3 separate regions of the Homo sapiens genome follow, and all the other regions are linked to region 1. The links come from fine-mapping of genetic effects on gene expression. A gene starts in region 1. Each other region holds a variant in brackets. All regions are shown on one strand. Distances are from middle to middle. Region 1 holds the start of SERTAD3 (SERTA domain containing 3). Region 2 holds the start of MIR6796 (microRNA 6796). Region 3 overlaps SHKBP1 (SH3KBP1 binding protein 1).

Region 1 (9,989 bases):
TCCCTGGCTCAAGCAATTCTCCAGCCTCAGCCTCCTGAGTAGTTGGGACTACAGGGGCATGCCACTGCACCCGGCTGATTTTTGTATTTTTAGTGGACTCAGGGTCTCCCTGTGTTGCCCAGGATAGTTTCAAACTCCTGGGCTTGAGTGATACTCCTGTCTCAGCCTCCCAAAGTGCCAGGATTACAGGCATGAGCCACCGCCACTGGCCAGGGCAGGGGATTCCTGTCTGCTTTGTCCCTTGCTTGGGTGCCCAGCACCTGGCCACACAATAGGTAATCAATAAGGATTTATCGAATGAATGAAGCAAAGGATATAGATGAGCACCTGCATATGGAAAGTCCATTCTTGGCTGTGACACCACCCAGGCTGGACACACAGTAGGCACCCTGGGAAGGTCTTTCTGGGGGTCGAATTTTGGGGGAAGGGAAAGGTGTCTGCTTTATCCAGCCCCTCTTGTCTTTACTTCATAGGAGACCAGCCACTAACTGGGGCGTACACAGTGACCCTGGATGGACGAGGGCCCTCAAGGGTCATCTCCAAACATGACCTGGGCCATTTCATGCTGCGCTGCCTCACCACCGATGAGTACGACGGACACAGCACCTACCCCTCCCACCAGTACCAGTAGCACTCTGTCCCCATCTGGGAGGGTGGCATTCTGGGACATGAGGAGCAAAGGAAGGGGGCAATAAATGTTGAGCCAAGAGCTTCAAATTACTCTAGAGAAACCGACTGTGTGACTCTTCCTCTCTCTGCCTCTGTCTGAGTATTTTGGTGTGTCTGCCTGCCTCTGTGTAAGATTTGCTTGTTATGCATTCATTCATTTGTTCAGTAACAGTTTATTTTTATTTTTTTATTTTTTTGAGACCGAGTCTTGCTCTGTCGCCCAGGCTGGAGTGCAGTGGCGCAATCTGGCTCACTGCAAGCTCCACCTCCCAGGTTCACACCATTCTCCTGCCTCAGCCTCCCCAGTAGCTGGGACTACAGGCGCCCACTACCACACCCAGCTAATTTTTTTGTATTTTTAGTAGAGACAGGGTTTCACCGTGTTAGCCAGGATGGTCTTGATCTCCTGACCTCATGATCCGCCTGCCTCGCCTCCCAAAGTGCTGGGATTACAGGCGTGAGCCACTGCGCCCCGCCCAGTAACAGTTTATTGAGTCTGGCCAGGCATGGTGGCTCATGCTTGGAATCCCAGCACATTGGGAGGCCGAGGCGGGTAGATCACTTGAGGTCAGGAGTTCAAGACCAGCCTGGCGAACATGGTGAAACCCTGTCTCTACTAAAAATACAAAAATTACCCAGGCGTGGTGATGCACACTTGTAATCCCAGCTACTTAGGAGGCTGAGGCAGGAGAATCGCTTGAACCTGGGAGGTGGAGGTTGCAGTGATCCGAGATTGTGCCACTGCACTCCAGCCTGGGTGACAGAGCGAGACTCCATCTCAATAATAATAATAATAATAACTTAGCTGGGCATGGTGGTGTGCACCTATAGTCCCAGATACTCAGGAAGCTGAGGTGGGAGGATGGCTTGAAGCCAGGAGTCCAGGTTGGGCAACATAGTGAGACCCCATCTCTACAAAATAATTTTTAAAAACTTAGCTGGGCATGGTGGTGTGTACCTGTAGTCCCAGATACTCAGGAGGCTGAGGCGGGAGAATGGCTTGAGGCCAGGAGGTCAAGGCCTGGCCACTGCACTCCAGCCTGTAGGACAGATCCAGACCCTGTCTCTGAAAATAAAAAAAAGTTTGTGCTTTATTTTGAGGATTTATGCAAGGAGTGGAGCACCAGAGAAGTAAGGCAGGGGGGACAGTTGGGTGTTTTATGAAGCTTCCTTTGGCTACTCTGTGAAGGTGGAAAGGAAGGGTCCAGGAATGGAGGCTGATAGCCCAGAGGGAGTTGGAGGAGGAACTGTAAGGAGGGGAGGAGAGAGTGGGTGTGAGGAATGCCTGGGAGCCTGCGTGGACAGTTGGTGAGGGGTGGAGGGGAGGCATCAGAAAGAAGCATACGGCTGTAACCCGGGGACAGAGTTACACTAGTGCTTCAGGAGGGAGGCTGAGGCTGCAGTGAGCCAAGGTGCGCCACTGCACTCCAGCATCCACGACGGAGTGGGACCCCGTCTCAAAAACAAAAACCCAAATGCAGTAGGGCTTTCCTGAGTTGTGGACCCTATAGGAGGCGCAGGTTTTGGAGGAGGAAGGGGAAGAATTGCTCCTTCCTAATTATGTCCTTTTTTGGAACCTACTGTCCCTTTCTTTTTTTCCCAGGGACACCTTCCCTAGGCCTGGGTGAGCTAAGACACTTCTCTCTCCCTACCTCCAACCCACACCACCCACCTACCTATTCCCCTCCCATTTATCCTGCAAACATCAGGATGACTTGGTTGACAAACTCCAACCGGCAAGAACTGGTCTGAGGAGGCTTAAACCTCCCTTCCCAGAGGTGGCCTGGAGAAAACTGCCTCCTCCCCTTAGGGAAACTCGTTGTAGGGGCGGAGCATTACGGGTGTGGGCTTTCAGGACACTAGCAGTGTCTTCTTTCTGCCTTATTTTTCTGTCACATTCCTGAGCATTTAGCAAACTTTCACTGGGACCTGCTACGTGTCCAGCCCTGTGCTAGGTGATCCTGCAGACCAAGAGGTGGTTGACAGAGATATCCTTGGTACCTGCCCTCGGCGGGGCGTTCCTCAGTCCATATAGTAACTGACAGTCCAGGACTGGGATGGCGGCACAGGAGGCCATGGAATCCTAGAATGGATCCTAACCCAACCTGGACTGCCAGGGAGGGCTTCGGAGAGGAGGAAACCTTTGAAATGTGTTCTGAGAAGCAGCCTGGGAATTGAGGGTATATTTTGAGGATGAGGAAACAAGTTTAAATATCCAGAGGCGAGAAGATTGCTTGAGGCCAGGAGTTCAAAACCAACCTGGGCAACACAAGAAAACCCCCCTCCCCCCTCCCCCATCTCTCTGTCACCCAGGCTGGAGTGCAGTGGCACGATCTCGCCTTCACTGCAACCTCAACCTCCCAGGTTCAAGCGATTCTCCTGCCTCAGCCTCCCAAGTGGCTGAGATTACAAGCGTGCGCCACCACGCCCAGCTAATTTTTGTATTTTTAGTAGAGACGGGGTTTCACCATTGTTGGCCAGGCTGGTCTCAAACTCCTGACCTCAAGTGATCTGCCCGCCTCCGCCTCCCAAAGTGCTGGGATTACAGGCGTGCGCCACTGCGCCCGGCAAAAAATAATATTAATAATAAAGATCCAGAGGCCTTTTATTGTCATGTTTGCGAACTTATTATGTACCTGGCATTGTTGTAGACACTGGGGTAAAGCAGGGAAGAAAACAAACAGAGAAAATCCTTTCGTTTTCCTGATGGGGTGAATGGGAGCTTGAAGCCATTTTAGAAAAACTGGAAGTGACTCAATGGGGCAGGATCGGAGAGAACCAGGAGAACGCATCAAGCAAGGTCGTGAGGGGCTTTGTGGCAAAAGGAAGGAGTTTGAAGTTTGTATTCGGGGTGGGTAGGAAGCCATGAACAGTAGCAGAGGAGTCATCTTGATGGAGCGGGGAAGGAAAGAGGGTGTCAGAAGACCCAGGTGGGACCACCAGAGGACGTGCTGAGAAAACCTGAGGATTAAGAAGGGGCCGCGCGGTAACGTATAGGGGGCGGGAGGGGCAGCAAGGGGGCGAGGCTACGATCGCCTAGGCAACGCGGGCCGCGCCACTCTATTGGCTGGTCTTCCGCTACGTCATCCCCCGCGCCCCAGCGTCCTCCCTCGGAACCCCGGGGGCGCGGCCTCCTCCGGTTGCTCGGCCCCGCCCGCCTGCACAGCGACTTGGGGAGGGGCATGCCAGCCCCTCTGGCTCCACGGTGGAGTCCAGGCCTACCATAAAGGAACCGCAGGGAGCAATGGTGACGATCTTGGAGCGAGGACTGTAGCTGAGTGGAAGGAAGCGGTTCTGTTGGACCGGCCGCCCTCCACCCCGGAGTCGCTGCCCCGCCCCCTGCCAGTTGCACTTCTTTAAATGGCCCGGGGCGCTAGGGAGGGGTGGGCGGATCCGGCGTCTCGGGGCACGGGCGGATGGCTCCGCCCAGCCAATCGACGCCCCGCGGCGGGCGGGACTCCAGCCAATCGCGGCTCGCGGCTCGGCTCCGGGGCGGGGCTGGTGGGCCAGAGGCCAGACGGAGAGGCCCCGCCGAGGTGAGCGAGGCTCCAACCGGTCACTGGTGGGTCCTGGCACTGGCGGGTCGCAACGCTGTGGGCGTTCCAGGAGGTGGTCGTGGCGAACCTGGCAGCTGCGGTGAGGAGTGGTCGCCTGGCTTGGGAATTTACCTTAGGCTGGGGGAGAGAGAAGCGCGCCCCGGGGACTTGCGGAGGCGGGGTCTGGGTGGGACCGGGGGAGGGGGCCTCAGATTCAGGGTGATGATAGGGAGGGTCTGGGGACCTGAGACTGAGTTCAAGACCCAGGAGGGGAGGCGAGGTTGTTGGGGCAGTATTTTCAAGTGGAGGGAGTTTGAAGCTGGGACGTTGGGCTTTTGGAGAAGCGAGAGAACAGAGGGGAGGAACTTTTGAGACAGGGAACCTGGAGATTCGATTCCACTTGGGTCTTCCGGACGGGTTGAATTCGGGGCTTTATCGTGTTCTGGAAAAGGTGTGAGAGGTACGGAGCTGAGATTCTGAGTATTTGGAGAAGCGAGAGAACTAGGGTCAAGGATTCTTGGGACTCCAAGACGCACTGGCGGGGGAAGGAGGTTGCCGGGAAGAGTTCAATGTTCGGGTCTTGGAGCCGGACAGCGAGTTTGGAGGTGAAGTCCAGGGGCGTTTGAAAGTCAGGAGACTAGGAGAAGTGGGAGGAAGTATCAGAATTAGGATACGTAGTCTCCCGAACTAGATCGGAGCATTGTCGTCTTTGAGCGATGTGTTCGGATCTGGGTCTCTGGATCCAAGGGCAGTTTGGAAGGAGAATCGCGGACTTTCAAGGAACAGAGGGACCGGGAGAAAGCAAATTTAGAGCCGGAGTCTGGGGTGGGGGAGGGGTGTTCCGGGCCTGGAGCTCAGACTCGCGGCCCCGGAGGCAATGGAGGGCGGGGCTCGGCAGGCGCCGGCAGCTGGACGTCCAGGTTCCCTTCCCCCACCCGCCTGTGCCCCTGTGCGCATGCCCTGAGGGAGAGCGGGGTGAGGGGGGTGGCTCGTCCCCTGGACGGGCGGAGCCCTCTGGGGATTGTAGTGCGTGCTCGACGTCAATTCGTGTACCTGGCGGCTGTTGGCCCCCGTTTCCCAGAAGCCCCTGGGCCAAATTGGGGCGTTCCTGGATGCTCTGTAAGGACCCATGGGGGGGCGGGGCCTTACAGTGTCGCGGTCTGATTGAGTGGGACCTCCGAGGGGGCGGGGCTTGGTCTGAGCTGAGTTCTAGCAAGTTTTCCTATGGGGCGCGCTTTGGGGGAATCTGAAAGCGTGGGCAGAGGGAATGAGACAGGCCCCTTTCCTACTCTTGGGAGCGCTCCCAGTCGGTTAAGGAAGAGGACATAGAAATATCCCGACTGTTGAAGAAGAATCTCAACATAGGTTCCCCAACAGGGCTCCAGGAGATTTCGAATATAGTAGGCACTCAGTAAATCTGTTGAGCGAATAACTGGCAATTAACTCTTGATCGAGGCCGGGTGTGGTGGTAATCCCAGCTACTCAGGAAGCTGAGGCGGGAGGATCGCTTGAGCCCAGGACTTCGAGACTGCAGTGAGCTGTGATAGCGCTGCTGCACTCAGCCCTGGGCGACAGAGCGAGACCCTGTCTCTAACAAAAAACAAACACAACTCTTGTTCATTAAGCACTTCCGGTGTGGTGGGCCCTATAGATACGTGGCATCTCCTTGACAGAGGTGGTGAGAAGTATTTTTTTACAGTCCCTATTTTACAGATGAGGAAACTGAGGCCCTGAGAATTGACTCATTCAGATCACTTCCCATGATCACGCAGCTGAGCAGTTTCCAATACAGAATTCAGATTTGGGGTTCCCTACTTCCAATCCAGGTCTCTGTGCTCCACACTTGTCTTTCGTGCTCCATGTTTGAAGAAATTAATATTGTGGAAGAACAGTTTTAAGGCTTAGAGGAACTTGAGTTAGGATCCGTACTTGGCAGATGAGGAAATTGATTCTCATGGATGTAAATTCACTGTTTGAGGCCACAACAGGCAAGTAAGTGAGATTTAAATCTAGCTGTACGTAACGCCAGATCTTATTTTCTTAATCGTATATGTACTCACCTTCTTAAACTTGTAGGATTCAGACAGCCTTCATTTTATACATCAGTAAACTGAGATTCCGATGATTAAAAATCACTAACAACTCAATAGGCCTGAGAAAGTGGGATATGAGCCAGCACTACGGTGTCTGGTGTCTGACCTTCCCCTATGCGCCTCTTCTCTCTACAGGGCATCATGGTGGGAGGCTTGAAGAGGAAACACTCTGATTTGGAAGAGGAGGAGGAGAGGTGGGAGTGGAGTCCAGCAGGCCTTCAGAGCTACCAGCAAGCCCTGCTCCGCATCTCCCTAGACAAAGTCCAGCGCAGCCTGGGCCCCCGAGCACCCAGCCTCCGCAGGCATGTCCTCATCCATAACACCCTCCAACAGCTGCAGGCTGCACTTCGCCTGGCTCCCGCCCCTGCCCTGCCCCCCGAGCCCCTCTTCCTGGGCGAGGAGGATTTCTCCCTGTCAGCCACCATTGGCTCTATCCTCAGGGAGCTGGACACCTCCATGGATGGGACTGAGCCCCCTCAGAATCCAGTGACTCCCCTTGGCCTCCAGAATGAAGTGCCACCCCAGCCTGATCCAGTCTTCTTAGAAGCTCTGAGCTCCCGGTACTTGGGGGACTCTGGCCTGGATGACTTCTTTCTGGACATTGACACATCTGCGGTAGAAAAGGAGCCTGCACGGGCCCCACCAGAGCCTCCTCACAACCTCTTCTGTGCCCCAGGTTCTTGGGAGTGGAATGAACTGGATCACATCATGGAAATCATTCTGGGGTCCTAAAACTGTGATAGAGGGGATCGATCCTTCCTCATGTCATCTTCGGTGGCCTGGATCCCTGAATGCAACTCTGGGTGTGTGTTTTTGTGGGGGCTCGAAGCAGTGACTATGGCCTCCTTTGTTCCCATTTCAGGGTTCCACAAACTGTCTTGCATGTGTGTGTGTGTCTGGTTACCCCGACCTTCTGTGAAGGTGGGTCTTCCTGAATTAATTTATCTATTCCAAATGCCTTAACGAGACTCTGTTTCTGGGAGTCTGATTTTCCACTTACACATTTCTTCCACCTTTCCTGCTAGTTCCCACTCCCCTGTGACCACTGGGGCCTCAGGGAAGATAAAGAAAGCTGGGCCTGTCGAAGGATGACAGGGATGTGCTGCCAGGTTGCTATAGAAACCCAGGCTCTGCCTCTTGCACCTTGAGGGGGTGGGAGGGGCTGGTGTCCTCCCTCCAGGCTGAACCCCACTTCCTCGGCAGGACCCCAGTCTCAGCAGCCTCCTGATTTCATAACCAGGCCGGACCACGTGCAATAGGGTGGAAACCAAACTGCTCCATGCCGGGTTATTTAAAAGAAAGGCAGAGTTTGTGGTGGCTTTTTTTTTTTTTTTTGGATTGTTTGTAATTTTTTTAAATAAAAGTATTTTGGAAGGAGGGATGTTGTCTAATGTTTCTAAACTTCACTGGGTCAGTGGGAGGGACCTGGTAAGTTCCTAAACATCAGCACCACTTCCGTGCCATAGCTGGGGTAGGTGTATCATTGTACATGACATTTATTGAGTGCTTGTTGGCTGAGTGCTCTAGCTCCCACTTGGAATCCTAGCACTTTGGGAGGATCTGCTTGAGGCCAGCCTGGGAAATGTGGCGAAACACTGCCTCTACAAAAAATACAAAAAGGAGCTAGGCATGGCGGCCTGTAGTCCCAGTTACTGGGGAGGCTGAGTTGGGAGGATCACCTGAGCCTGGGAGGTTGAGGCTGCAGTAAGCCATGGTCACACCACTGCACTCCAGCCTCAGAAAAAAATTAGTGCTTGTTAAGAGCACTGTTCTAGCCACTTTATTTGAATTAAGTCTGTTAATCCTCATATAGAAGTAAGTACTGTTACCACTTTTTATACAGGAGGAACCAGAAGTTTAGAGAGGACAAGTCACTTAATTCAGAGCCACACAGCTAGGAAGAACAAGGACCAGGGAGCTAGGCTGAAATGGCCTCCAGAGCCTTGTCCTTCACTATTATAAATGTTGCTTCTTAGACTAACCAGCCACGTGGGTGGGCACAGGAGGGAGAAACTGAGTCACACGGAGTATGTGTCACTGAATGTGCTGCTGAGCCCAGAGGGGCAAGAAAATGCCCAAAGACCCCCAGTACTAAAAGACCTCTTTAGGAGAGTTGGCTAGGAAGCAGAGCCCAGATTAGATTTATAGTGCTAATGCTTTTTTTTTTTTTTTTTTTTTGAGACGGAGTCTCACTCTGTCACCCAGGCTGGAGTGCAATGACAGGATTTTGGCTCACTGCAACCTCCACTCCCGGGTTCAGGCAATTCTCCTGCCTCAGCCTCCCGAATAGCAGTGACTACAGGTGCTTGCCACCACGCCCAGCTAATTTTTGTATTTTTTTTAAAATAGAGACAGTTTCACCATGTTGGCCAGGCTTGTCTCCAACTCCTAACCTCAAGTGACCCGCCTGCCTCAGCCTCCCAAAGTGCTGGGATTACAGGCATGAGCCACTGTGCCTGACCTGTGCTGATGCTTTATTTCGGAGGTACGAGCCCAGGCTGCTGAGATACAGGAGAGGAGAAGGAGGTGAAGGAAGTGAAGGAAGAGGTAATGTGATACCTGTACAGGCTATGCCTTTACAATGGTCTTTGAAGAGATGAAGCAAGTGAGCTACACAGCATTAGGGACTTTTCTGGAAGGGCTGCGAGGAGGAACAACACCTGAGTATAGTCCATGGGTGGAGAAAGGATGGGGATTTTGCTTGTGGTTTCTGGGTCAAAGCCAGATTTCTCAACCTGAAGGGGTCATTGTCAGAAAGTGGAGGGATAACCTGAAGAGGTGGGTGCCAATCCAGAGAGAGGAATGAGGTGGCCCAGAGGATCTAAAGAAAGCAACCAGGTACAGGCCAGGCGCGGTGGCTCAGGCCTGTAATTCCAGTACTTAGGGAGGCCAAGGCGGGAGGATTGCCTGAAGTGAGGAGTTTGAGACCAGCCTGGCCAACATGGCGAAGCCCTGTCTCTACTAAAAATACAAAAAATTAGCTGGGCATGGTGGCAAACACCTGTGGTCCCAGCTACTCAGGAGGCTGAGGCAGGAGAATCACTTGAATCCAGGAGGCACAGGTTGCAGTGAGCTGAGATCATACCACTGCACTCCAGCCTGAGTGACAGAGCGAGATTCCATCTCAAAAAAAAAAAAAAAAAAGCAACCAGGTGTGATACTTGCTGTGGAATTGTAAAAAATAAAAATAAAAGGTAAGCAACCAGGTCTGCATCCCAATATGATGGCAATTGAATCATGTCTTCCTCCTTGAAACCTTCAGTGCCTTTTTTTTTTTTTTTTTCTTTTGAGACAGGGTCTCTGGCTCTGTCGCCCAGGCTGGAGTGCAGTGGTACAATCACAGCTTACTGCAACCTCCACCTCATGGACTCAAGCAATTCTCCCACCTCAGCCTCAGCCTCCCAAGTAGCTGGGACTACAGGCACGTGGACCACACCTGACTAATTTTTGTATTTTTTGTAGAGATGGGGTTGTGCCATGTAGCCCAGGCTGGTCTTGAACTCCTGGAATCAAGCGATCCTCACATCTCAGCCTCCCAAAGTGCTGGGATTACAGGCATGAGCCACCACGCCCAGCCTCCAGTGACTTCTTGACACACTCAATAAAGCGCCAGCTCCACCAAGACCTGCAAGGACTGACTTATTCTCACTTCGGACAACTTTCTCAGTTCCATCTCCCACTCTCTCCATCA
Region 2 (9,989 bases), 76 kb after region 1:
ACCCAACCCAGCTAGTTTTGTTTGTTTGTTTGTTTGTTTGTAAAGATGGAGTCTTGCTATGTTGTCCAGGCTGGTCTCAAACTCCTGGCCTCAAGTGATCCTGTCACCTCAACCTCCCAAAGTATTGGGATTACAGGCATAAGCCACCCCACTTGGCCTGAATTGTTAATTGCATTTAATTAACTTAAACTGAAAGAGCCACCTGTGGCTATACTGGATGATATAGAGCACCAAAGGTTTGGTGTGCATGAACCCAGGGTACCTCTCCCAGCAGCCCTAACAGGTTGGAAACAATACCCATTTTCTAACTGAAATAGAGGCCGAGGGATGTTGGGAACTACTCCAGGCCCCTGACCAAGCAGAATGAGCTGGGGTGAGAACTGATGGTCAGGATACGCCCTCCCTGTCATCACCAAACAGGGACAGATGGAGGCTGTGAGTGACGGCATGGGGCTGGGACATGACAGGCCCCACTTGCCCCAGACTCACCGCCAGGTAGGCCAGAGCAGGGGTTCCATTGAGGCAGATCTCCATTGGTGTCTCTTGGTTGTAGCGGGTGTCATAGAACCGGGGCCAAGTTGATGGGATGGAGCTGCCTGCCTGGCCCAGGAACCAGTAGGCCTCAAAGATCTTGGTCAGGTCTCGAGCCAGGCAGCTGCAGTTGTACATGACCACGCCCAGCTCCTTGACCTGTAGGAGGGCAGTGCTGAGCTCAGCGATAGCGGCCTAGTGCTCACAGATGACAGGGACACTCCCCAGTCTGGTCTCTGTCTTTCCCCCTGTCCCACAGTACCCCCTCCACCCCAGCTCCAATAGCTAAAGTCCTAGAATGATTATCAACTTAAGTTTTGATGAAAATCAGTTATTCCAAAGCTCCAGGTTTCCTGAACGTTTGCAATCTGCTGTTGCTTCTACCCTCCACTGAGCTAGCTTCTACTCATTCTTAGGTCTAGGCTGACATGTTGCCTCCTTCAGGAAGCCTCCCATGACTACCCAGCCTGCACCAGGCATTCCTCTGGGCTCTCACAGTCCCTTGGGATTCCCTCCTCATTCTTTCTGGTGACAAACTGGTCTTCCCATTGGGCTGGGAGGACAGGCACTAGGGATGTCTCAGTCACAGCTATATCTACAGCATCTCCCTGCATAATTGCTGAGATTAAAGGTTAGGGGAACTATCTGTTGAGGAAATGAATTCATGAGTTATTGTCCTGTCTTATCTTCACCTCATTGCCCAAGCTGTTTCCTGTTCCATCTTGCGCTAATTCCTCCCTATCCTTCAGGGATCAGATTAGTTATACCTCCTTTGGGAAACCCTCCAATGCCCCAGGTTGGGGTCTCTGAGCTTCCACAGCCCTCTGTTCCCTCCATCCTGGCCCTGACCCTCTGCCTGTGTCTCCCCAACCCCGGCCCTGACCCCTCTGGGCTGTCACTGTCAGGTGACAGGCCAGTCTGCATTGGGCTGGGAGTTCCATGAGGTCCATCTGTTACCACCATGTTCCCAACATTACCCAGGATAGGGCTGGACTTAGAGCAGGCACACAGAGATGTACAATGAAGATCAAATGGGTGCGCAGGTTCTTGAATGCCATGTAGAGGGGCTGGTAGCTGCAATTGGGGATCAGAGGGAGCCCCAGGCTTCCAGGAGCAGGGGGAGGGCAGTAGAGGGCTCCATTTAGGGATTCTTTGTTTTGTAACAGGGTCTCACTCTGTCACTCAGGCTGGAGTGCAGTGGCATGAATACAACCCACTGTAGCCTCAAACTCCTGGGCTCAAGTGATCCTCCCACCTCAGTCTCCCAAGGAGCTGGGACCAGAGGTGTGTGCCACCACACCGGGCTTATTTTTTTTTTTTTGGTAGAGATGGGGTCTCACTATGTTGCCCAGGCTGGTCTCCAACTCCTGGGCTCAAGCAATCCTCCCACCTTGGCCTCCCAAAGTGTTGAGATTATAGGTGTGAGCCACCGTGCATGGCTTGGATTAGGGAGGCCTGGTAGGAGGCAAGAAGGAAGCCATTACAGAGAATGGGTGGAGAGGACTCTGGATTGAGTGAGGGATGCAGTCGGAGGCTGGGTGCCCTGTGGGGCAGGGAGTGGCCTGGAAGGAAGGTAGACAGGGTGCAGACAGACCTGGGTCAGTGAACGCCAGTCCATGTTGGCACTGCCCAGGTAGAAGTGGGTCTGGTCCACCACCCAGAACTTGGTATGCAGGACGCCATGGGTCAGCTTCTGCATGTCCACCATGCGGACCTGGGCACCTGTGACCAGCAGGGGCAGAGATCAGGGGCCAGGCTGGGTACCCCCAGGCCCAGACCAGCCCCAGTTGGGCCCCAGCTCACCGCTCTGCAGCAGAGCCTGCAGGTCCGCCTGTGGCTGGGGCCCGCTGGGCTTGCTCACAGCGATGCGGACGTTCACGCCCTTTGGTGCCAGGGTCTGCAGCTGCCGGAGGACCTCCTCACCCTGCGGGGAGGGGAGAGCTTCTGAGGGGCTGGACCAGCCAGCTCTCCAACCCCACAAGGTAATGCCCGGTGGAGTTATTTTGAGACATGATTAGGAGTAAACAGACTTTACATTAGCCTGCATAGATTAAAGACTTTACAGATTAAAATATTAAAAGACTTCCTTATCTGTTTTAAACATCTTTATCTGCTTTAATAATTAGTTGCCCTGTGATCCCCCTCCAAGTCCTCCTGACCCCTCCTGCCCCTCCAGGGACTTTCTCAAAATTCAGCATCAAGGCAGGGCCTCCAGGCATCTCCCAGTATGGTGGGGGCGAGGCTCAGGCAGGGGGTCCTGGAAGGTATCGGGTGAGGCACGATGATGCCAACAACAGCAACAGTCAAGGATGCCCTGGAACCTACTGTGTGCCAGGCCCTGTTCTAGGCCTCTTCTCAGCGAACTCACTGAATTCTCACAACCCAGTGAGGCTGGTTTAATTATAATCCCCACAGAGAACTCAGTAGTGGAGTGGGATTTTGTTTTTGTTTTTTTGTTTGTTTGTTTGTTGAGACAGGGACTTGCTATGTTGCCCAGGCTGATCTTCAATCCCTGGGCTCAAGCATTCCGCCTGCCTCAGTCTCCCAAGTAGCTAGTACCTCAGGAGTGCACCACCACATCCAGCTATGGAGCAGGATTTGAACCCAGACCATCTGCCTCCTACATCTGTGTTTTAAACCACTTTAGAGGGAGCCAGCAGGGAGTGGGAGCTCATACGGTTTTTTAACATAAAAAAATTTTTTTTTAGAGACAGGGTTTCACTATGTTGCCCAGGCTAGAGTGCAGTGGCATGATCACAGCTCACTGCAGCCTCCAATTCCTAGGCTCAAGTCATTCTCCTGCTTCAGCCTCCCAAGTAGCTGGGACCACAGGTGTGTACCACTATGCCTGGCTTTGGTTTTTAACTTTTGTAATTATTATTATTACTTTTTCTTTTTCTTTTTTTTGAGACAGGGTCTTGCTATGTTGCCTGGGCTGGAGTGTAGTGGCATGATCACGGCTCGCTGCAGCCTCCAACTCCTGGGCTCAAGCCATCCTCCTCCTTCCATCTCCTGAGTATCTGAGACTGCAGGCATGCACCACAACACCCTCCTAATTTTTTTTTATTTTTAGTAGAGATGGTTGAGGGGAGGTGGGGGGCGGGTCTCACTATGTTGCTCAGGCTAGTCTCGAACTCTTGGGCTCCAGTGATCCTCCTGTCTAGGCCTCCCAAAGTGCTGGGATTACAGGTGTGAATCACCACACTTGGCCATAATTATTTTTTTCAGGCAGTTCTTAAGGAGCCTTGTAATTTTAGTTAAGTTTTAAGACAACTTCTCACAAAAAGAGCCAGTAGGGAGAAGAAAACAGAAGGAACAAATTCATGGTTTTTCAATGGAAGAGGTTATCCATGTAGGCTGTTCCTTTTCAAATTGTGAAGCTTTTATGTTCTTTAAGTTTGTCTGCAGACCATACCAGGATATATAGTAACAGCAGACTCACAAAGGCTGACTCTGTGCCAGGCACTGTGCTAAAATTTGCATGGATTAGTCCATTTCATCCTCACAAGAGCCCTAAGAAGCAGGTGCTATAAATTGGCCCCATTTTACAGATAAAGAAACTGAAGCTGGAGAGAAGAGGTGGCCTGCCTGGGGTCACACAGCTGGGAGGTGGCCCCTGTCTTGAGGCTGGGCTGTTAATTACTCCACTCTTCCCTTTCTTTGTGTGACTGGGTCAGGACAGCTTGTGGGTGAGTGACATCTGCCAGCCTAATAATCCCTTGTAACCAAACCCGCACCCTGACATTCAGAGGCCTACAGATGACCGTGACAAACGCCCCCAGTCCAGAGAGCCACGTGACGACAGCTGCTTGCAAACACCTGTGTCCAATCTGCTGTGTGAGACACACCCCTCTGTCTCCTGGGCTGCAGGAGAAACCCCTTCATTCCCCACAGCCCCCGCTGCCTCCCACCCCCTGCCCCTGCTGCCGGCCAGGGCCAAGGTTGCAGGTACCTGCTGGGCAGAGGGCTCCTGCGTGTGGGTGTCATTGTTGGTGAGGGTCCAGTAGAAGGAGGCGATGTCCAGGCTGCTGTGCGCACCGGCGAGCAGGCCCAGCCAGGCCTGGCTGGTGGAAGGGTTCCCCGTGGAGGCATTGGGGAAGTCCAGGCCCTCAGGAATGCTTTCCACCAGCACTGCTCTGGGGGGTGGGGGATGCTATCAGCCATACGGTGCCGGAGAGCAAGGGCTGGGAGGTGAGTGCTCAGCTGTCCGTCCATGGGTGTGTTGGATAGACTGTATTTTTTTTTTTTTAGAGACAGAGTCTTGCCCTGTCCCCCAGGCTGGAAGCGCAGTGGCGCCATCTCAGCTCACTGCAGCCTCGAACCCCTGGGCTCAAGCGATCCTCCCGCCTCAACCTCTTGAGTAGCTGGGACTACAGGTGTGCACCAGTATGCCTGGTTACTTTTTTTACTTTTAGTAGAGATGGAGCC[G/A]CACTACATTGCCCAGGCTGGTCTGGAACTCCTGGGCTCAAGCAATCCTCCCGCCTCAGCCCCGCAAAGTGTTGCAATTACAGGCGTGAGCCACCAAGCCCAGCTAAACTGTATTTGAGTTTTTCTTTTCTTTTAAAAAAAATTTTTTAAAACTGTGTGTATTTGAATGCGTGCCTGGACTCATGATCCTCTGCGTGTCTGTCTAGAGGTGTGGAAGGAAGGTCGTGTATTGAGATGTGTGTGTGGGTCCACAGATGTGGGTGGAAGATGCTGTGTCTGTTCACAGGCCTGACAGAAGATGACGCTGTGGCTGCCATAGAAACTATGTGTGTGGAGGAGGAGGGGGCGGGCGAGCACTTGGGAGCCTGCAACCTCCTCACTTGTCGCAAGCGCTGGGTAGGGCTGAGTGCAGGCCCTGTTTAGTGTGTGCTTAAGTGTACCTGGTCTGGCAGGCCCCTCCCCCACCAACTGCAGCACCCCCCACTTACTCGCAAGGGTCATAGCAGGGGGCTGGGCGCTGGTTGGGCCCAAAGAGATGCAAGTCGCCGTATTCCCATAGAAACAGCTGAGTCATCAGGGCTCCGAAGCCCACAACCGCCAGAATGAGGACCAGCAGGACCCAGCGGGCTTTCTGTGGGGAGGAGGAGGTGGTCAGCCAGCCCGAGGGGGGCAGCCCAGCCTGTCTCTGAGACAGAGCGAGGGTGGCGGAGGGCTCCTACCTTTTCCGCAGCCTTCCACGCCTCAATCTCATTCATGGGCAGCTCATTGGCGGGCTCCTCTGCAGGCACCTTCAGCTGGGGATGGGGACAACAACGGGGGTGACAGGTGGCTCTTGGGAACCCCCACCCCCACTGTACCCAGTTCCACCCTGCTGAGCCCCCCAATCCACCTACCTCCTGGTACATCAGTTTAGGCTTCATCTTCCCTCAAGGCTGGGGGATACGCAGAGCCCAGGTGAGAAGGTGGGTGTGTCAGGGTCTCCAAACTGGCAGAACAAAAGTGGGCACTGTGTGGGGTGTTCTACGCTTTCCAGGGACAGACATCACAGAAGAGTGATTAGTCTTGGGGCTATTCATAATCATGGGGGCCACTGGCACACTGCCCACCACCCCAAAAAGAGGAAGCTGGTCACTGGTCAGCAGGATTTCGAAATCCCTCAAAATCCAACGCTCTGCTGCCTGCTCTTCACTCTGCAGTGCCCACCCTGCCCCCATCAGCACCCACGCAGCTCCCCTCTAGCAGCCCCCTTCTCCCTCCTCCAACCTGTAGACACCCCAAGAAAGGCAGCGCTGGATGAGGTCAGCGGAGCCCCAGGTCTTTGTGCCTGGCTTTTCTCAGCCCTGGGACAGGGGGTATATTCTAGGTGGCTCCTCCGCCCTCAGGTGCCCCCACACCACACAGCTCAGCCAGGGATCATCGGGGCCTCCCTGCCACCCCGCTGCCCATCCCCCCAGCCAGCCTCCCCCCACCTACCCCTGAGGGGCCTCGGCCTCGCTCTCAGGCGTCTGCAGCTACCTCCGGTGGGCCCCAGCTTCTGTCTGGACAGGCTGAACGAGGGTGGGAGGAGGGGGCGGGGCCTGTGGGAGCTCCGCCCACTGCAGCGGGGAGTCTGCGCAGTGCGTGCCCCAGTCCGGGCTCACCGCAGCGAGAAGCGGGGCTCGGCTCCCCAGACACGGTCGCTCCAGCCTGGCCGGGTTGGGGGGTAGTACATGGCTGGTGGATGGGCTTTGCTACATTCCACCCTAGAGTCCCCGTGTAGGGCAGGGAGGCCACAGGTAAAGAACAAAAGGAACCTCACGTCTTTTCTCATTTACAAACCTTGTGAATTTGTGTACCATGGACATGCATTACCTAGTCAAAAATAAATACATAAATGAAATTAATAAAACGCTTATAAAATGAAACGGAGAGATCATGGTTGAATAACAGAATGAAGAAAGGTAGCGATAAAGTCAACAGAAGACAGTTCACAGCATGAGATGGGAAGAAAAGGTCAGAGGAGATGGTGAATTTTCTGTTGGAGTCTATTTAGATTTTGGTATTTGATTTTTTAAAAAAAGCCAGCTGATATTTTGGTAGGGATTTAAAAAAATTTATTTTCCGATCCACCCCATCCCATATCTCCCAAGAGGGATTTAAGGCCCCGGCTGGAGAAATACACTGGAGACCCCTTTCCTCTCTCATCCCTCCTCTCCTAATTGACAGAGGGTGGCACCTCTTTTCACGGCAGGGTGGCACCTCTCTCAATGAGACAGGGACACCCTCTTCCCTCAAGCTCCCCCAAACACACATGGCAGGAAGTCAAGAGATAACTGCAGAAAAGGAGTATTACTGAGAGAAGCAACAGGGCAGAAGTGGTTGTCTTCAAGGGAGTGGGATTTTGGGGTAGGTCAAGATTGCTTTTTATTGTAAGCCTATTTTCTTTTCTTTTCTTTTCTTTTTTTAGTGCCAGAGTTCTGTTCCCTAGGCTGGAGTGCAGCAGCATGATCATAGCTCACTGCGGCCTCAACTTCCCAGGCTCAAGCAATCCTCCTGCCTCAGCCTCCCAAGCAGCTGGGACTACAGGCACGTGCCACCATGCCCAGCTGCTTTTTTTTTTTTTTTTGGAGACGCAGTCTCGCTCTGTCTCTCCCACGCTGGAGTGCAGTGGCGCCATCTCGGCTCACTGCAACCTCCACCTCCCTGGTTCGAGCAATTCGCCCACCTCAGCTTCCCGAGTAGCTGGGACTACAGGCGCCCGCCACCATGCCCGGCTAATTTTTTTTTTGTATTTTTTAGTAGAGATGGGGTTTCACCATGTTAGCCAGGATGGTCTCGATCTCCTGACCTCGTGATCCGCCCGTCTAGGCCCCCAAAAGTGCTGGGATTACAGGCATGAGCCACCGCGCCCAGCCGCAGCTAATTTTTTTTTTTTTAATTTTGTATAGACGGGGTCTTGCTTATTGCCCAGGCTGAACTCCTGGACTCAAGTGATCCTCCTACCTTGGCCTCCCAAAGTTCTGAGATTACAGGCATGAGCCACCACATCTGGCCCCTATTTTCTTTTTTCTGAGACGGAGTTTCGCTCTTTTGCCCAGGCTGGAGTGCAGTGGCACAATCTTGGTTCACTGCAACCTCCGCCTTGTGGTTTCAAGCGATTCTCCTGCCTCAGCCTCCCGAGTAGCTGGGATTACAGGCGCCTGCCACCACGACCAGCTAATTTTTGTATTTTTAGTAGAGACAGGGTTTCACCAAGTTGGCCAGGCTGGTCTCGAACTCCTGACCTCGTGATCCGCCTGCCTTGGCCTCCCAAAGTGCTGGGATTACAGGCATGAGCCACTGTGCCCAGCCTATTTTCTTTTTTAAAATTGTGAAACATAAGCTATTTTCAGAGAAGTATAGAAAATATCTCGGTGTAGGTTGAGAAATAATTATAAAGCAAACACAGGCGTCACCAGTTTCATTACCTTTTAAAAAATCAGGGGCGCGCATTACTCTTTTTTGAAAAAGAAGAAAAAGAAAACTCTCAGAGCTAGGTGCTCCCCTTACTCCAAGATCCAACCTAGATTTGTAGGGATAACTTGCAAACTCCTCCCTACCAATGTCAGATCCCAGACTGGCGAGGGTAGAACATGCTAGATCCCCTCTTTTCATGGCAGGAAGACAAATGGGGATGCCTAAAAAGGATCTAGCAGGTCGGGTGTGGTGGCTCACGCCTGTAATCCCAGCACTTTGGGAGGCCGAGGTGGGTGGATCACCTGAGGTTAGGAGTTCAAGACCAGCCTGGCCAATGTGGTGAAACCCTCTCTCTACCAAAAATGTAAAAATTAGCTGGGCGTGGTGGCGGGCGCTTGTAATCCCAGCTACTCGGGAGACTGAGGCAGGAGAATTGCTTGAACCTGGGAGGCAGAGGTTGCAGTGAGCTGAGATTGCGCCACTGCACTCCAGCCTGGGTTAAAACAGAGCGAGACTCCGTCTCAAACAAACAAACAAACAAACAAACAAACAAATCTAGCAAGAAACAGCAACAGACTAAGGTTATTTGAAACTCCAGAGGTCACTAGGAGAAGCAGAAGATAACATCAGTCTTAGAGGCGGTTGACCACAACATTGTGGGTGGAGGAGGCAGGAGGGAGTGCAGGAAATGCTTGTCTTCAATTTTCTTTGAAGGCCTTGGTGAGACATATTTTTATTGAAGAATATGGAGTTGGAACAGCAGGCAATGTGAAATTAGGGAAGCCAAGATGAAGAAAAACAAAACCGAAGGCAAGGTGGGGCATGGAGATCTGAAGTAACAGGGCTGGCAGCGTCAGGGCTGGAGAACTGGGATGGTCACTAATAAACCAAAAATAAGGAGAAAGGCCTGGCACCGTGGCTCACACCTGTAATCTCAGCACTTTGGGAGGCTGAGGTGAGAGGACTGCTTGAGCCCAGGAGTTCCAGACTAGCCTTGGCAACATAGCAAGGCCCAGTCTCTACAAGAACATAAAAAATAAAAACAAAAACAAAATAAAAATAGGAAGAAAATAGATGGACTTCGTTCAAATTGTCAGTGATGTTTTGGCTTCCAAATTGTACAGTGATTACAGGTCTGTAATGATTAGTTTAATTTTAACTTTTGATGTTTTAATTGTATTATTTTTCTTATTGTGTTAACTTTTGATTAAAAAGTAAACTAATATTGGAGGGCCAGGCACGGTGGTTTACACGTGTAATCCCAGCACTTTGGGAGGCCAAGGTGGGAGGATTGCTTGAGCCCAGGAGTTTGAGACCAGCCTGGGCAACATAGTGAGACCTAATCTCTACAACAAATGAAAGAAAATTAGCCTGGTATGATGGTGTGGACGTGTAGTTCCAACTATGTGGAAGGCTGAGGCAGGAGAATTGCTTGAATCTGGGAGGTGGAGACTGCAGTGAGCAGTGATCGCACCACCTCACTCCAGCCCAGCTGACAGAGTGAGAGCCTGTCTCATAAAAAACAAACAAATAAAAACTAGTACTGGAGAAGTGATTTCGATTGGATGAGACTGGCAAGACAATACAGTAAGTGC
Region 3 (9,989 bases), 140 kb before region 1:
AGGGGAGTGCCGAGACCGCTGGAGGGCCACGGGGCTGGTGTGGGTGGCCGTCGGAGGTCTGGCCCACTCCGCACCAGTTCCTGGCAGCGTTCCACAAAGCTGCCCCCACCACGGCGCCGGGCCTCAGCCTGCGGGGGGCTTGGGCTCCCACGGTGGCCAGACAAGGAGGTGTTGCTGGAGGCTGAGTGGAGGCTGAGGAAGTAAGGACAGTAAGTGCACGTCATCACGGGGCAGCTGGGCCACTCTGTCCCCGGGAACACCATGCTGTCCCCTCTCCCCTCATTGCACAGAAGGGGCAGTGGAGTTGTGGCTACCTGGTGAGGGAGATGCGGGGTGAGGGGCTGGGGAGACAGCCCCATGAGGGAGCTGAAGGAGCCGGCGGGGCCAGCTCACAGTGTTCCAGCTGTTCCATCAGCTCTTGCTCCGTCAGGCCACCTGCTGGGGGGCACGGAAGCAGGGTCAGGGGGCAAGACAGGGGTCATAGGGCAAGGGCCTGGGTTGCATTGCAGTGCAAGCACCGAGGGTCAGGACAGGAGAGAGGAAGCAGAGATCAATGCATGGGGGCCAGAGGCTGAGACAGGGGTTGAAAAACAAGGGCAGGAAGGGATGGGGAGCAGAGAGGGGGTCAAAGGAAAAGGGGTCAGAGGGCAAGGGCCTGGGAGAGAGATCAAGCAGTTGGCAGTGGAGAGTGGTTCTGGGTGAGGCTGTGGGGCTTGGGACGGGATTGGGGTGGGGCAGGGAGTACCAGGGGCCTGGCCGAGGCCGTCCATGGCGGTGGTTAGGTCCCACATGGCCAAGCTGCCGTTGGCCTGGCCAGTGAGCAGGTAGCGCCGGGGCCGAGAGCCGAGCCGCCGGGAGCCCTCGCACTCCAGCACTGTGAAGGCTGTCGTGGGTGAGCCGTCCACGGAGCGCACGGAGCACACCCTGGGGGGTGCAGTGGGGGAGGTGGTCACCCTCGCTTTCTCACCCTTCCTCGTCCCAGTCCCCACCACTGTGGCTGCAGTTCCTGCCTCTCCAGGGGCCATCCCAATCTTTATCCATCCCTAGCCTGCTTTTGAGTTCCAGTCCCAAGGGTCCAGCAGCTCTTGGACACCGCAGCCCCAAACACCCAGGGAGTCTCCCAGAGCTTCTGCTCTTCCCTGCTCCCACTGCAGGGAAGACCTGAGGCCCGTCCCAGCTGCTCCCCCACCTCCTATCAGCCTCCTGGCCTCCTCCCTGGGCTCCTGGCCTCCCATCAAGCCTCCTTTCATCCCCCATGCAGTGGCCACGGCTCCCCGCACAGGACAAAGCCTCAGCCCTTCCACAGCCTGACAAGGCCCGCCCGCATCTGCACCCCATCCTCACCTCCTGTTCTGTGCTCCAGCCCAGGAGCCCACGTGTCCTTCCCATGTGACCCTATTTGGCCCTTCTCAGCCTCTGCACATACAGTTCCCTCAGGCTGGGGCCCCCTTCCCCTGCCTTCTTTCTTCTGCTCCTTCCTACTTGTCCTCTAGGTCTCTGCTCAGAGTCCCTTCATCCAGAACATCCTCCGAGGCCCCTTTCCCAGCTGAAGCAAGGCTCCTACAGCTCCCTGGGTCTCCTCCATCCCATCCCGACCCCTGCCCCTGGTCCCCCTATCCCACCCCAACCCCTCCCCCTGGTCCCCCCATCCCACCCCGACCTCTCCCCCTGGGCCCCCATCCCACCCCTCCCCCTCCGCCTGGGCCCCCCATCCCACCCTGACCCCACCCCCTGTGCCTTCAACCTGGCCCTGCCTGCACTGGGCTGGCACTGCGCCAGGTCAGTCCCACCAACACCTGTCACACCTTTGATACCAGAAGACAAACCTACCAGGCCTGTCCTCCCTCCCAGCCTTTGCTCCTTCAATGCTCCTTGGCTGGGACCCCTTTCTGGCCTCAGTGATCTGGCTAGCATCTTGCCTTCTCCCCTGACCTCCCTCCCTGTTGGACAGGACTGTCCTCCCTCCCTGTTGGACAGGACTGTCCTCACCGCTGCCCAGTAGATGAGAGACGCACGAAGAGCTGGCTGGCACTGGGCACCACCTTCTGGATGAACACTTGCTGGTCGTCCCGCTCACCGTAGGGGCCTGGGCCAGGCAGGGGCAGGGGTCAGGGCCAGCTGGGATTCCCTCAGCCTCAGACTTCCTTCCCCACTGATGAAACCCACCACCCCAAGACCCCAGTCCCATCCCCAGGTTGTTAGAGTTGGGCAGGGCCAGAGAGGGCTGGGGGGTTGTGGCAGTCAGTGGAGCTCAGGTGCCTCAAGGATCAGGACACCCCAATCGTTGCAGGCTCCTGGGTCAGGTGGCCGCAAGTGGGAATCAGCGGAGGTCAACAGGGGTCAGGTAAGGGGGTCAGTGGGGTGGGAAGGCCAGGAGCCAGTAGGCACCAATGTCATTGCCAGCACTGCAGCCGCCATGCCCATCTGCCGACTCCAGAGCCAGGATCTTAAAGGAAGCGAGTGGGGTGGAGCCGGGCTGGGTGGAAATCATGCCGCGGAAGCGAGTCACAGACCATGTCCGCACGTGGTTGTTGTCGGCACAGACTGAGGGGCACAAGGAGAGCAGGAAGTCAGGCCTGGTGCAGGCATCAATGCTGCCTGCCCGTCCAGAGCCTCAGGACAGCCCCGTTTCAGGAGGGTCAGCCCTTGCTGAGTTCTTCCCTTTCAGAGAATCCTTTCCTCCCCAGAATTCCAAATGTTAAAAACCCTGTTGCCTCTGCCTCCAAAACTGTTCCAGAGCCTGATCTCACCTTGCCCTATCCTCTGCCCCACACCGGTCCTGGTCCATTTCGTCACCTGCCTGGACCGTATCAGCACGCCCCTCCCAGAGGTCCCTGCTCCTGTCCTATCCCAGTAGTGTGCTCCCACGGGCAGCCAGGTGGAGCCTGTGAACACCTGAAGCTAGTCATGTCCCTCCCCTGCTCGGAGCCCTCTGTGGCTCCTGCCCTTGTCACCTCCATACCCTCATCTCCTCCCATTCTCCCCCTCATTTACTCTGTTCCAGGCACAAGTGGCTCCCTGCACTTCCTCAGGCATCCTCTCACCTCAGAGCCTTTGCAATGCCTGTTCCCTCGGCCTGAATGCTTGTCCCTACCAATCTGCACTGCTCATTCTGTTATTTCTGCTCAAAGGTCCTTCCTCAGGCCTTCCCTGAATGACCCCTCTCCAGCGACTTGACACTCTCTAGCCACACACAGCTTCATGTTTATTCATAGCCCTTATCATTGCCTGGTGTTGATTTAGATTATTTTATTAATATTTTATGAGATAGAGTCTTGCTTTGTTGCCTGGGCTGGAGTGCAGGGGTGCAATCATAGCTGATTGCAGCCCCTGACTCTTGGGCTCAAGTGATCCCTCCACCTCAGCCTCCCAAGAAGCTGGGACCCCAGGTGCATGCCACCATACTTGGCTAATTTTTTAAAAATTTTTTGTAGAAACAATGTCTCACTTTGTTGTCCAGGTTGGTCTCACACTCCTAGCCTCAAGCAATCCTCCCACCTTGGCCTCCCAAAGTGCTGGGATTATAGGCATGAGCCACAGTGCCCAGCCTGATTTGCATTTTTATCTATTTATTTTTGAGATGGAGTCTCGCTCTGTTGCCTAGGCTGGAGTGCAGTAGCATGATCTGGGCTCTCTGCAATCTCCGCCTCCCAGGTTCAAGCAATTCTCCTCCCTCGGCCTCCCGAGTAGCGGGGATTACAGGCACGTGCCACCACACCTGGCTAATTTTTTATATTTTTGGTAGAGGTGGGGTTTCACCATGTTGGCCAGGCTGGTCTCGAACTCCTGACCTCAAGTAATCTACCCGCCTTGGCCTCCCAAAGTTCTGGGATTATAGGTGTGAGCCACCGCAGCTGGCCATTGATGTCCATTTTTATAGATTTATTGTCTGCCATCGCTGCTAGAATGTCAGCTCCACGAGGGCAGGGACTTGGCCTGTCTTGTTCATCACTGTATCCCCTATGCCTGGCACATGGTGGGTGCCCCGTAAATCGTTGCTGAATTGATGGATTCCCAAACACACACAGATTCACTCTTCCCCAGACTGATCCCCTATGGTATTCTCTCACTTCTGCAATTACAGTCCCATCCCAGGTCAATCCTCTCCGCCAGAGCTCTCTTCCTACACAATGTCCCTCCCCAGTGGAAATTCTCATCCTCCTGTCTCCACACTCCCATCTGAGCTGTCTCTCCCAGCACTGGAGCACCCCACAGAGGCTCACCTGAGATGAGGTGCTTCTCCGACAGCATGATCTTGGTGACAGGGCTGCGGTGCACAGTGAAGGTCTGGAAGAGCTGAGGCCCCGAGCCCACAGTCTCCGGGTGCTGCACGATGACCCGCACGCCCCCTGAGCTGGTGCCATAGGCGATCTCGATCCAGTTCCCACTGTCACCTGGTGAGGGGCCAAGGATGAGGAGAGGGCCTGGGCCACAGAGACAGAAACCAGGGCAGGGAGAAAGAAACAGGCACAGAACAGAGACACAGTCAGAAAGCAAGGAGAGGCCGGGCACGGTGGCTCACGCCGTAATCCCATCACTTTGGGAAGCTGAGGCGGGTGGATCGCTTGAGGTCAGGCGTTCAAGACCAGCCTGGCCAACGTGCTGAAACCCTGTCTCTAGTAAAAATACAAAAATTAGCTGGTGGTGGTAGTACGCACCTGTAATCCCAGCTACTCAGAAGGCTGAGGCATGAGAATTGCTTGAACCCAGGAGGCAGAGGTTGCAATGAGCCAAGACCACGCCACTGCACTCCAGCCTGCATGACAGAATGTGACTCTGTCTCAAAAAAAAAAAAAGAAAGAAAGAAAGAAAGAGACACAGAACAGAGACACAGTCAGAAAGCAAGGAGAGAGGGAAGGACACAAAAAGATGGTGATGAGATGTGGGAAATGGAGGAACAGGGAGACAAAGGCACAGGTCAAAGGAGGAGAGGCCCAGAGACAGAAATTGTAACAGTGAAACAGCAAATAAGAGAGGAAAGAGAAAGTAAAACAGAGAACAGAGGCCGAGGCAGGAAGATTGCTTGAGGCCAGGCGTTTGAGGCCAGCCTGGGCAACATAGTGAGACCCTCATCTCTACAAAAGATTTTTAAAAAACTAGTTGGGTGTGATGGCATTCACCTATGATCCCAGCTACTCAAGAGGCTGAAGTAGGAGGATCACTTGAGCCCAGGGGGTGAGGCTGCAGTGAGCTATGATTGCGCCACTGCACTCCAGCCTAGGTGACGAAGCGAGACTGTCTCAAAAAACAAA[G/C]AAAAATGACATAATAGTGGCATGTGGCGGGAAGGGAGATGAGGAGGAAATGAGTAAGTAAGTGAAATAAGAAAGAGGCCGGGTGCAGCAGCCCATGCCTGTAATTCCAGCACTTTGGGAGACGACGAGAGGAGAATCCCAGGAGTTCAAAACTTGCTTAGCCAACGTGGCAAAACCCTGCCTCTACTAAAAACACAAAAATTAGCTGGGCATGGTGGCAGGCACCCGTAATCCCAGCTACTTGGGAGGCTGAGTCTGGAGAATTGCTTGAACCCAGGAGGCAGAGGTTGTAGTGAGCTGAGATTGCGCCATTGCACTCCAGCCTGGGTTGAATGACAGAGCGATACTCTGTCTCAGGAAAAGACAAAAAAAAAAAAAAAGAAAGAAAGAAAAAAAAGAAATAAGAAAAGGGCCTTACAAAGAAGAAAGGTGATAATGTGTCATGAAGTTAGGTGTATTATTAACTTATTTCTGCTTTAAAAAAAAAAGAAAAGCAGCAGCAGCAGCTATGGCCAAGCACAGTGACTCAAGTCTGTATTTCCAGCACTTTGGAGGCCAAAGTGTGAGGATCACTTGAGCCCAGGAGTTCAAGAGTAGCCTGGGCAACATGGCAAAACCCTGTCTCTACAAAAAAATACAAAAATTAGACAGGTGTGGTGATGCATGCCTGTGGTTCTGCTGTTCAGGAGGTTGAGGTAGAAGAATCGCTTGAGCCCGAGTGGCGGAGGTGGCAGAGAACTCACATCATGCCACTGCACTCTAGCCTGGGCAACAGAGCAAGACCCTGTCTCTATTTTTTTTTAAAAAAGAATAATCCCTGCTTCACACCATACATAAAATTTAATTTCTGATAGAACAGACTTCCATGTAAAAACTAAACTGTAAATCTTCTAGAAGAAATTCAGGAGAAGATCTTTGTAACCTAGAATAGGTAAGGATATCTTAAGACCCAGAAAACACTAACCATTTAAAAAAATATGCTAAGTGAAAAATGCAGACACAAAAGACCATATAATGTATGATCCCATTTACAGGAATTGTCCAGAACAGGCAAATCCATAGGTATAGGAAGCATATTGAGCCTGGCCAACGTGGCGTAACCCAGTCTCTACTTAAAGTAGAAAAATTAGCCAGGCATGGTGATGCACACCTGTAATCCTCCCCTACTCAGGAAGCTGAGGCATGAGAATCGCTTGAACCCAAGAGGCAGAGATTGCAGTGAGCTGAGATCATGCCACTGCACTCCAGCCTGGGCAGCAGAGCGAGACCTTGTCTCAAACAAAAAGAGAAAGCATATTAGTGATTTCTAGAGGGTATCAGAAGTGAGAAATGTGGAGTTACTGCTAAAGATCAGGGGGTTTCTTACGGGGGTGATGAACATACTCTGGAATTTGTTCATGGTGATAGTTGTACAACCTTGTGAATATACTAAAATCCGCTGAATTGTGCACGTTCAAATGGGAAATTTTATGGTATGAGAATTACGTCTCAAAAATTAACCCATTCTGCATTTGATGTCAAGAAAACAAAACAAAAAACTGTCTCAAGTAAGAGAACTCAGGTTCATCTGCTGTAAAACCTGCATCTGTGTTGTTTTATGAACATGTGAACATCATGCCTTAATCACAAAGGTGGGAAAGAAACACAAAGATTAACTCCTAATGGTCCATTCTGCCCCTAGTGGAGAGGGTGGCCACCATCTAGCACCTAGAACGTGCTTATATACAGGGATACTCAGTAAATATTTGTTGAATGACTGGATGAGAGTTGAATCTGGCTGGGCGCGGTGGCTCACGTCTGTAATCCCAGTACTTTGGGGGGCTGAGGCGGGAGGATCATCTGAGGTCAGGAGTTCAAGACCAGCCTGGCCAACATGGTGAAACCCCATCTCTACTAAAACTACAAAAATTAGCCAGGCGTGGCAGTGGGCGCCTGTAATCCTAGCTACTTGGGAGGCTGAGGCAGGAGAATCGCTTGAACTCAGGAGGTGGAGGTTGCAGTGAGCCAAGATTGCACCACTGCACTCCAGCCTGGGCAACAGAATGAGAGTCTGTCTCAGAAAAAAAAATGAGAGAGAGTTGAATCTGCCGCCCCTCGATAAACCCCTCTGGGTCATGCTACACAAGTTGGGGGACAGCTGCAGGCTGGGGCTGGGGCTGGCAGGTGACAGCAGCAGGGGAAGCCGGGTCATAGCTTACTGGTCTTGGGGGTGAGGTAGACACTGAGGGCGGTGACCCCATCCTCCGCTGGGTCCCGATAGAGCTCGCTGACAAGGAGGTCGTTGTCTTTCATGCGCAAGGGGAACTTCTGCACATCTGGGGTGGGCAGGGAGGGTGGAGCGGGTTTGTTCCAAGTGCCCCAGCCTCTCTCCCTCCCTTCCCCTCTCCCAGGGGAGGGTCTCGGGCACCCGGGACACAGGCTGCTGCTCACCCACGTAGTAAATGGAGCCGTTGTTGCAGCCCAGGAGGAGGAAGGAGCCTGCCGCGTCATAACTGGTGATGGGCTGCACCTCCTGGACCTGGGGGTGGGGCAGGACAGGCTGCAGCCGGGAGCCCTTCCATTCCTTTCCTTCCGTGGTGACCCCTCACAGAGGATGGGCCCTCTCCTCCACCTCCAGAACCCACCCACTGCTCCCCAGCCCCGTCCACCCCAGGCCTGCCTTTGTCCCTGTCTTGTTCCCTCCCTTCCTCCCTTTGATGCATCTGTCTGTCTGACTCTTGGCCTCTCCTGGACTCTGTACTTTTTAAAGTTTTAATTTTTTAAATTTTTTGTAGAGACAGAGTCTTATTATGTTTCCCAGGCTGGCGTCAAACTCCTGGGCTCAAGCCATCCTCTTGCCTCGGCCTCCCAAAGTGCTGGGATTACGGGCGGGAGTCACTGCACCCGGCCTCCACTATGTACTTCTGACATGACTCTAATTCATCTCCATTTATCTCTCTGAGTTCCCCCATCTGCCACAGTGGTTCAGTCTGGTTTGACTCTGTCTACCCTTCTCTGTCACCTCTTTCTGATTTTCTATTTCTATTTGCCTGGTTTTCTGCCTCTCTGTCTCTTTCTCTGCCTCTGTCTGTCTTTCTCCCAAAGCCATCCTCCCACCTCAGCCTCCCAAAGTGCTGGGATTACAAGTGTGAGCCACCGAGCCAAGCCAGTTCTTGTCTTCTACAGCATCCCCCCTAACCTGCTCTCTCACCCAGTCCCAAGACAATCCTCCCTACTCCTTTTCAAACCCATTCATGCTTCATGTGGGCTCTGCAGCACCTCCTCCAGGAAGGCTTCCCTGGTGCTCCTTAGGCCTTTATCACAGACATCCCCAGGCTCTGGCCAGCTGCTGGTTCTCTGGCTTCCTCCAGGCTTAGGGGGTGGGGGTGGGGGCAGACGTGAACCCCTTCCTGGGTCTGTACAGTCTGGAAAACTGGGAAGGGGGCAGCCAGGCTGGCCAGAACTCTGACCTGCCAGTGCTTGGTGACGGCATTCCACACCCCGATGCGCCCTGTGTGGCTTGTAGCAATGAGCTGGTTCCCGACGAAGAACAAGGCCTCCACAGGCACCCCCAGATGAAAGACCCCTGCAGTGGGCAAAAAGGGCTCAGCTGGAACCCTGCCTCATGGAGGAGGAGAGGTGGGAGGAAGAACTCCAAGGACCAGAGGGTTCAGTGGGACCACAGAATCCTTGAAGGATAGAAGATTCCATCAGGGGCTGGGCACAGTGGCTCACACCTGTAATCCCAACACTTTGAGAGGCTCAGGTGGGCGGATCATTTGAGGCCAGGAGTTTGAGACCAGCCTGGCCAACATGATGAAACTCCATCTCTACTAAAAAATATAAAAATTAGCTGAGTGTGGTAGCACACAACTGTAGCCCCAGCTACTTGGGAGGTTGAGGAAGGAGAATTGCGTGACCCCAGGAGGCAGAGGTTGCAGTGAGCCGAGATCATACCACTGTACTCCAATCTGGGCAACAGAGAATGACTCCATTTCAAAAAAAAAAAAAGTGAAGATTCCAGCAGGAATTAGAGAAGATAAAATGGGCCAGAAGATTTCTGATGGGGTATGGGATTCTAAAACGGTCTGGAATTCTAACAGCACTGAGATTTGCAATAAGGCAAAAAAACCTCCACTGGTGGCAGGGGATTCTTACGAGGGCTGAGATTTATTTGGGGACAGATTAATAAGTCCGAGATTTGTTGCTGTGGCTTTGAGACAGGGTCTTGCTCTGTTGTCCAGGCTGGAGTGCAGTGGTGCAATCATGGCTTACATAGCTCACGGCAGCCTCGAACTCCTGGCCTCAAGCAATCCTCCTGCCATGGCCTCCCAAAGTGCTGGAACTACAGATGTGAGTTACTGTGCCCAGCCATAAGTCAGAGATTTCTTTTTTTGTTTTTTTTTTTTTTTTGAGATGGTGTCTCACTCTGTCCACTCTGTCGCTCAGGCTGGAATGCAGTGGTGCGATCTCAGCTCACTGCAACATCTGCCTCCCAGGTTCCAGTGATTCTCCTGCCTTAACCTCCTGAGTAGCTGGGATTACAGGCACGTGCCACCACACCCAGCTAATTTTTTTGTATTTTTGAAATAAAGACTGGGTTTCACCCTGTTGGCCAAGGGGGTCTCGAACTCCTGACCTCAAGTGATCTGCCCGCCTCAGCCTCCCAAAGTGCTGGGATTACAAGCATGAGCCACCGCACCGGGCCAAGTCAGACATTTCTCATGGCCACACAGAATAGCGCATTCTAACAAAACC

Evidence for each region. PIP is the estimated chance that this variant, and not a neighbour inherited with it, causes the effect.
Region 2: its variant is fine-mapped to the expression of SERTAD3 in whole blood (TOPMed, PIP 0.97).
Region 3: its variant is fine-mapped to the expression of SERTAD3 in whole blood (TOPMed, PIP 0.95).

Annotation. Positions count from the first base shown.
Region 1 is chr19:40,438,531-40,448,519 of GRCh38, reverse strand. SERTAD3 (SERTA domain containing 3) reads left to right here and starts at 4,185. Exons shown (of 2, transcript NM_203344.3): 1 at 4,185-4,305; 2 at 6,434-7,676. The coding sequence starts at 6,440. The coding sequence ends at 7,030. It overlaps SERTAD3-AS1 (SERTAD3 antisense RNA 1), which reads right to left and starts at 4,003. Exons shown (of 2, transcript NR_187496.1): 1 at 3,892-4,003; 2 at 3,257-3,630. It overlaps BLVRB (biliverdin reductase B), which reads left to right. Exons shown (of 5, transcript NM_000713.3): 5 at 474-752. The coding sequence ends at 631. RefSeq lists silencers at 3,654-3,873, 3,934-4,253, 4,434-4,493, 4,959-5,338.
Region 2 is chr19:40,362,374-40,372,362 of GRCh38, reverse strand. It overlaps PLD3 (phospholipase D family member 3), which reads right to left. Exons shown (of 13, transcript NM_012268.4): 2 at 6,433-6,645; 3 at 5,853-5,944; 4 at 5,679-5,753; 5 at 5,448-5,590; 6 at 4,484-4,667; 7 at 2,335-2,455; 8 at 2,126-2,253; 9 at 490-690. The coding sequence starts at 5,879. It overlaps MIR6796 (microRNA 6796), which reads right to left and starts at 2,517; the gene lies at 2,456-2,517. RefSeq lists an enhancer at 287-581 and a silencer at 4,252-4,417. The variant G/A (reference allele first, on the strand shown) is at 4,960.
Region 3 is chr19:40,581,179-40,591,167 of GRCh38, reverse strand. SHKBP1 (SH3KBP1 binding protein 1) reads right to left here. Exons shown (of 18, transcript NM_138392.4): 10 at 8,702-8,817; 11 at 7,683-7,770; 12 at 7,451-7,567; 13 at 4,224-4,394; 14 at 2,389-2,544; 15 at 1,990-2,086; 16 at 746-924; 17 at 315-438; 18 at 1-192. Among named protein-coding and RNA genes, the nearest start is that of SHKBP1, 9.3 kb to the right of the region's middle. The variant G/C (reference allele first, on the strand shown) is at 5,253.